Homo sapiens: one gene and its partner. The protein of the gene in region 1 purifies or fractionates together with the protein of each later gene. This does not show direct contact. Each region holds a gene or a part of one and is shown on either strand. Other genes may lie near its edges.

The links.
Region 2: the proteins of SETX (region 1) and ARHGAP1 purify together in Homo sapiens (affinity purification with mass spectrometry; 2 studies listed by BioGRID and IntAct, with this or other methods). This does not show direct contact.

Annotation. Positions count from the first base shown.
Region 1 is NC_000009.12:132,352,773-132,356,681, forward strand, and holds the start of SETX (probable helicase senataxin), read right to left. Parts: upstream 2,215-3,909; 5' UTR 2,145-2,214; exon of another isoform or gene 1,865-2,144; intron 984-1,864; 5' UTR 877-983; intron 1-876. UniProt on the Homo sapiens protein: Probable RNA/DNA helicase involved in diverse aspects of RNA metabolism and genomic integrity.
Region 2 is NC_000011.10:46,687,010-46,690,918, forward strand, and holds part of ARHGAP1 (rho GTPase-activating protein 1), read right to left. Parts: intron 1,252-3,909; coding exon 1,164-1,251; intron 1-1,163. UniProt on the Homo sapiens protein: GTPase activator for the Rho, Rac and Cdc42 proteins, converting them to the putatively inactive GDP-bound state. Cdc42 seems to be the preferred substrate.

The DNA of each region.
Region 1 (3,909 bases):
AAGTAAACATGACCAGAACCCAACGAAGTCCTTCCCTTAAATCTGTTATTTGTTCTATATTCCCTTGTTGATGACATTACCATACATTCAATTTTCAAACCAGTAACCTAGGAATTATCCTATACGCTCCTTCTCCCTCAGCCGCAATCTCTGAGCTCCAGAGCCTACCCCTTAATTACATCTCTACTTTCTTCTCAGTGCAACCGCCACTGCCTTAGTTCAGTACATTTTCATCATTTGCCTGGATTACTGAAGAAGCCTAAATGATCTATTTCTTCTTTGATCGCCATCAATTCCTCCTCCAAAATGCTGCCAGAGGCCAAAGCCCCAAACTGGACTTCGAAAGCACAAATGACTCCTCCTCCAATGTTGGGATAAAATTCAAATTGCTGAGCTCAACACACACAAGGCCCGCGATGATCCAGCTTCCACATCATCTCTTTCCTCCACACTTACCTCCCTTGACTTGCTCTTCCTAAAACCATTCATGGTGACTGGTATTCCCTGCCTTTATGGAAGCTCTTCCACTGGCCTTGGAAACCCACCCTCCTACCTCTGCCCGGTACTTAACTGTGAATACACATCAGACTTACCTCAGGAACTTAAAAAAAAAAGTAGAAAAGATCCTATGGATAAAATTGTTTCCCTTTTAAAGAACTCCACTAAGATTCGAAGAGAAAGCTGGATTTGAGAACAACCAGTGTGCAAGCTCTTCCTGAGTGTCATCACGTCTGGGGGGGGGGCCTGTCCGACCCGTCCTCTCTTCCAGTCTATCTCTGATGACCTTCTTCTCTGTCCCTTTAGGACTCTGCACATGTTTCCATCATTGCACTTACCTTGGTGCTCTGAACTCCTGCTAAAAAAAAAAATTATTACCTGGACAAATGGCCTACAGAAAAGTGATCGTCTCAGCTGGGCTTAGTTGTGAACAAACACGGATTTGCATTCATATATGCCCAGACTCTGGCCCCAAAAGAACATTTCTGAAATTAAAAAACAAAAAACGAAATTGGTAAGTGGCATTTATACTCTATATCCCATCTGAGCCTGGTATCGATCCTATTACAGACAGATACTGCTGGCTGATGAGGAAGCCCAGATAGGTTAGACAACTTGGCTGTGGACTTCCAGGAAACAGCAGAACTGCAATTCTGACTCCCAGTTCCACAAGGGGCTGTCCCCACTCACGGGGACAGCTAGGCACCGAGCCAAAAATCCCCCAAGTTATTAGCCCGCGCAGGTAACATCAATCCTAGGATCCTCAGCTGTGTCACTTATCAAATACCACACTCGGCCTTCTCCTTGTGGAGCTCTTTTCCCTCAAGGCAGTCACCCCCGTTTCACTTGGGTCGTGCAAATTGCTGGGCACATCCTTAGATCCCCAGAAGTTGGGGAGGACGGACAAAGTCCTGTGGCCAGCAGCAAAAGCTCCAGCCCCTCCAAGTGGGAGAAACAGACTCTCCTCCAAACGAAGGGACCGGCCGGGCGCGGCGGCTCGGAGGATCCCTGGAGCAGCTGAGCTCAGCCTGGGAAACACAGCCAGGCCCTGTCTCTGCAACACATTTTGTTTTTAATTAGCCGGGCGTGGTGACGCGCGCCTATGGTCCCAGTTACTCGGGGGGATGAGGCGGAAGGATCGCTGGAGCCCAGGAAGACGAGGTTGCTGCGAGCCGTGACTGTTCCACTGCACTTCAGCCTGGGTGACAGAGCGAGACCCCGTCTCAAAAAAAAAAAAAAAAGAAAAAAGAAAAAAAAACAAAGGGAGGGACTCCAGGCGAGAGGCAGACGAGCGTGTGGAGGGAACCGACACTTTCCACCCCGAGACCTCCCGCTCAGCCCCAAGGAAACTACGCAGTATCCACACCAAAAACAGCTCACACGAGACCGCAGTGTAGACAACGGAAGGACAGGGGGTCGCAGCGGCCGGGTCCAGCGCGCAGGAAGGCAACAGGCGGCCGCCAGCCGTCGAGGGGTGCTCCCGCCCCCGCACCGAGGGAAGCGGCCGAGCCCGCGCCGACTCTTCCCCCATCCGCCCACCGGGACCTAGGCGCCGCGATGGTTCCCCGAAGCGGCCCTGCAAGCACAAGCCGCGCCTGCGCTCACGCCCGCCCGACCTACGGCCTCCAGCCCGCCGCTACCCTCACCGCTCTCTGGCTGGCGTCGGCCTCTAGCCCACCTCCATACCGGGCCCCGCTCTAGGCCACCAGCGGAAGTGCGGGCCCGCAGCCGCAGCTACCAACCAGCTGTTGCCGCGAGGTAGGCCCCGCCCCCGCGCTGAGTCGGCCGGCCGCAGGCCCCGCCCCGGCCGCTGCTTTCTGGTTTTGGTGCCCCCCAGGGGGCGGGGCATGGGAAGAGCGGCCGCGGTGCACCGCCCACGCCGGGCGCTGGCGTCACGTCCGGGCAGCTGGGGCCCGACCAATCCCGAGTCCCCGTCAGGGTGGACGGGGAGAGTTTGCCGCGGAACCTTGACCTCGGCCCCGCCCGGGGCTTCCTGCGGGTGGGGCGGCTCCGGGATGAGCTCTGCTGCGGGTGGGGTCAGCCCTTACCCGCTGGCCATTTCCGTTCCCTCTTTTTTCTTCTTTTTTCCACGCCTCAGGTGTCTCAGCGGATGTACTACGGTGACGAAGTAATTTTTCTCTTTAGATTTCCTTTAAAGACCTGAAATGTAAATTACATAAACGTGTAATTTCGGAGGAATATGTGTATATCCTTTATATTACAAGAAAGGGAGACCTTAGGTCTTGCGAACAATGCGCGCGATGCGCAACACAGCAGAGTAAATCCCTCGCTGGTGCGGTGGCTCCCGCTTCTAATCCCACCACTTTGGGAGGCCCAGGCGGGAGGCTCGCTTGAGCCCGGAGTTCAGAGACCAGCCTGTGCAACATAGCGAGACACCCGTATGTACAAAAAAAAATTAAAACTCAGCCACCGAGGCCGGGCGCGGTGGCTCACGCCTGTAATCCCAGCACTTTGGGAGGCCGAGGCGGGTGGATCACCTGAGGTCAGGAGTTCGAGACCAGCCTGACCAACATGGTGAAACTCCGTCTCTACTAAAAATAAAAAGATTACCTGGGCGTGGTGGCGGGTGCCTGTAATCCCAGCTACTCAGGAGGCTGAGGCATGAGAATGGCTTGAACCCGGGAGGCAGAGGTTGCAGTGAGCCGAGATCGCACCACTGCACTCCAGCCTGGGCAAAGGAGCGAGACTCTCTCTCCGGAAAAAAAAAAAAAAAAAAAAAAATTAGCACCTGTGGGCCCAGCTTGTTGGGAGGCTGAGGCAGGGGGTGGATATCCATTGAGACCGGGAGATCGAGACTGCAGTGAGCCGTGACTGTGCCACTACACTCCAGGCTGGGGAACAAAGCAAGACCCTGTCTCAGAAAAGTCTATAAATAAATAAAAATGAGTAAAATCCACTGGAAAGCCTATCCCCCCCCTTTTTTGTTTTTGAGATGGAGTCGCGCTCTGTCACCCAAGCTGAAGTGCAGTGGCGCAGTCTCGGCTCACTGCAACCTCCGCCTCCTGGGTTCAAATGATTCTCCTGCATCAGCCTCCCGAGTAGCTGGGAGTACAGGCGTGTGCCACACGCCCGGCTAATGTTCATGTTTTTAGTAGAGATGGGGTTTCACCATGTTGGCCAGGATGGTCTCAAACTCCAACCTCAAGTGATCCGCCCCGCCTCGACCTCCCAAAGTGCTGGGATTACAAGCGTGATCCACCGCACCCGGCCCCTACCCCCTTTTAGTAACGCCTACTACTGACCACGATGATGCAGCGTCACCGTCTTACAGTTAATAGAGGAGACAGGGAAATTAAACAATTAGTAGTGGTGACTCAGGCGATAAAAAAAGAGGCTGAGATGGGCCAGCTTGGGAAAAGTGGGTCAGATACAGCCTTACCGAGGAGAACC
Region 2 (3,909 bases), on another chromosome or scaffold:
TCCCTGGCAAGCTGTCTCCTGAAAACCAGGTGCTTTCCACCCACATCCACTGACTTCCTCCCACTTCACTTATTATCTGGGCAGGAGGCTGTCACCTGGTACATCAGACATAGAAAGAACTAGAGAAAAGGCCATGTGCCTCCACCAGCCCCAGGCCAAGCTCTTGCCCATTCTGGCTGGGCCGTGCGGCGGGCTTGGACAAGGCTCTGCCTGCCTTGTCTGAAGAGCAGTGGGAAGAGGGTTCAGAAGGCCAGAGAGATAGAATTCCTAGATGACGCTGGAAGACTCAGCCTGTGGCCCTGGCTTGCCAGGACTGGCTGAGACTCCAAATTCAGGCCCTTCTCCTTCTGCGGCTGCCCTCTGGGTCTGTCCCTAAGCCCACACCTCCTCCTGCTCGCACGCAACCATTCAGGGTCTCAAAGAGCTGCTTGGGACAGTGCCAGGATTTTACATTTCAGAGAGTGCTTCAAACTGGTCAGGAAAGAACTGCATCTTTCTAAAATTTGCCGAGAAAACAGAAAGAAGGGCAAGATGGTCTCACTCTACTACACACCCCGAGGACAGCAGCAGGAAGTGAGTTTGCTCGCCTGTGGGCCCAGAGCTGGCTCAACCATAAATGAGTCTTTCAAGCCTTGGCATTCAACCAGCCTTCAGACATGAATCAGGACATGTCTGGACCGGCCAGAGCTATTACATATGTTTGGCCCCAGAACCCACATCGGTATAGAAACCACTGACACCAAAGGCACAAAATAAGACAACACTAATGAGTCCTATAAACGATAAACAACTGCAACCATCTCAGAAACACCATAGGATTATAACAGTCAATCATCACATCTGGACAAAAGTCCTTCCTTTTCATGTGCTGTTTGTCACTCCTACAAGGAAAGAGGCCTATATTATTATCCCTTTTGAAAGGTGAGGAAAGCGAGGCTTAAAGATGCTTACCAAGGTCACCCAGCTTCAATAACTAGAAACTAGGTCTGACTCCTCGTCCAGTGCTCTCCCCTAAATATAAACCAGCTCCTTCATGAGAAGAGGGAAGGCATTAAGGCAGGTGGCCTAGCACCCACAGGCAGGGAGGGACAGTAAAGAACGTGGCATTAGGCTACAATGGGGATCTGGGCAAAGCCCCAACACACTTCCCAGCAGGTACTCACCCCAGGAGCTTGCTGTGGTCGAGCTGGTGGCTGGGGGGCATTCGACAGGCACTAAACACAATGATCTTCCGCCCATACTTGTCATCTCCTAGGTGTGGAGAAAGATGGAGCACAGTGGGTTGAAGGGGAACCAAAAGAAGTGGGGTGAGGAACTTAAAGGGGCCAGGCCTGCTGATCTGAGCCAGTTACCACAGGGGCCAGAGTGCCCATGCAGACAGACCTCCGGGCAGCCTCCTGCATGCAAGGGTGTGCCACTGAAGACAGGGACAGCTTGCTTTCAGGGCTACTGAGCTGGGGTATTAAAAAAAAAGTGATTTTTTTTTCTTTGAGATGGGGTCTTGTTCTTTCACCCAGTCTGGAATGTAGTGGCGCAATCACGGCTCACTGTAGCCCCAATCTCCTGGGCTCAAGAGATCCTCCTGCTTCAGCCTCCCAAGTAGCCAGGACTATAGGTGAGCACCACCATACCTGGTGAAATTTTAAAATTTTTTGTAGAGACAGATCTCACTATCTTGCCATGGCTGGGTCTTGAGCTCCTGGCCTCCTCCTGCCTCAGCCTCCCAAAGTGCTGGGATTACAGATGTGAGCCACCGCACCCAGCCAACATCACTTTTTAAAAAGTCATGCCGGCCGGGCGCGGTGGCTCACGCCTGTAATCCCAATACTTTGGGAGGCTGAACCAGGGGGATCACCTGAGGTCAGGAGTTACGAGACCAGCCTGGCCAACATGGTGAAAACCCATCTCTACCAAAAATACAAAAATTAGCTGGGTGTGGTGGTGCACACCTATAGTCCCAGCTACTGGGGAGGCTGAGGCAGGAAAATTGCTTGAACCTGGGAGGCGGAGGTTGCAGTGAGCTGAGCTGGTGCCACTGTACTCCAGCCTGGGTGACAGAGCAAGAGTGTCTCAAAAAAAAAAAAAAAAAAGTTATGCCTGGTGCAGACAACCCAAATGTCCATCAGCGGATAAAAGATGTAGTTAATCCATGCAATGGAATACTGTTTGGCCATAAAAAGGAATGAAGTACTGATACATGCTACAATGTGGATGAACCTCCGAAACATTATGCCAAGTGAAAGCCAGTCACAAAAGGCCACCAAGTCTATGATTCCAGTTACATGAGATGTCTAGATAGGTACATGCATAGAGACAGGAAGCAAATTAGTGGTTTCCAGGTACTGGGAGGAGTGGGGAATGGGGACAGACTGCTTAGTGGGTACAGCATTTGGTATGGGTATGGGTGGTGAAAATGTTTTGGGATTAGATGGAGGTGATAATTTTATGACATTATGCACTAAATATTATACCACTGAATTGTACACTGCAAACTGATGAATTTTGTTATGTGATTCTTATCTCAAATTATTATTACTATTATTTTTTTTTAGATGGAGTCTCACTCTGTCACCCAGGCTAGAGTGCAGTGGCACAGTCTTGTCTCACTGCAACCTCCACCTCCCAGGTTCAAGCGATTCTCCTGCCTCAGCTTCCCGAGTAGCTGGGATTACAGGCGCCTGCCACCATGCCTGGCTAATATTTGTATTTTTAGTAGAGACAGAGTTTCACCATGTTGGCCAAGCTGGTCTCGAACTCCTGACGTCACGATCCACCTGCCTTGGCCTCCCAAAGCGCTGGGATTACAGGCATGAGCCACCACGCCCGGCTCTTACCTCAATTTTTAAAAAATGCTCACTAAAGCATTTGTGATCTTGCCAAATAGTCATCTTATAAGTCTACACTTTTCCAAAAGCACCCCCGCTGAGCAGTGTGTATTTGGAAAGCCTCTTGAAGTTACCTTCTCAGCATGTTTCAGCCACTGAGGAAATCAGTCTGATTACTTAACAGTCATGTCTCATTTCTGACCACTGACAATCGCTTTCTGATTTTATTACTAGAATTTTTTTTAAGAGATGGGGGTCTCGGCCAGGCACAGTGGCTCACGCCTGTAGTCCCAACACTTTGGGAGGCCGAGGTGGGCGGATCATGAGGTCAGGAGATCGAGACCATCCTGGCTAACATGGTGAAACCCCGTCTTTACTAAAAACACACACACAAAAAAAAAAATTAGCCAGGTGTGGTGGCGGGCACCTGTAGTCCCAGCTACTCGGGAGGCTGAGGCAGGAGAATGGCATGAACCCAGGAGACGGAGCTTGCAGTGAGCCGAGATCGCCCCACTGCACTCCAGCCTGGGTGATAAAGCGAGACTCCGTCTCAAAAAAAAAAAGACAAAATTAAAGAAAAGAGATGGGGGTCTCAATGTGTTGCCCAGGCTGTTCTTGAACTCCTGGCTTTAGGTGATCCTCTCACCTCAGCTTCCCAAGCAGCTGAGACTACAGGTGTGCACCACTGCACCCAGCTTATTACTAGAATTATGGACGACACTGGTTCTGATTGACTTCTGTAGGTTTCTAAGCATTCTATCCTTTCTCATTAAGATATTCTAGGGCCCCCACCAACCCTTAAGACTCAATGCAGGCATAATCGCCGCCTGGAATCCTGTGTCCTCGCCCTCTCTCCCCAGACAGGTTAGCTGCCCCTTTTCATGGCTCCCAGCATAAACCGTCACCCATCACTGTCCTGACCCTTCACTCTCCTGTAGAATTGTTTATGTACCTGTCTCCCTGACAGGCTTGTGAGCAGCTCAAAGACAGAGGCTGTGTCTCATTGTCTTTGTTTGTTCTTTTTCTTTGTTTACTCCTGGCAAGCTGTGATTTTTTTTTTTTTAAGAGACAGGGTCTTGCTCTG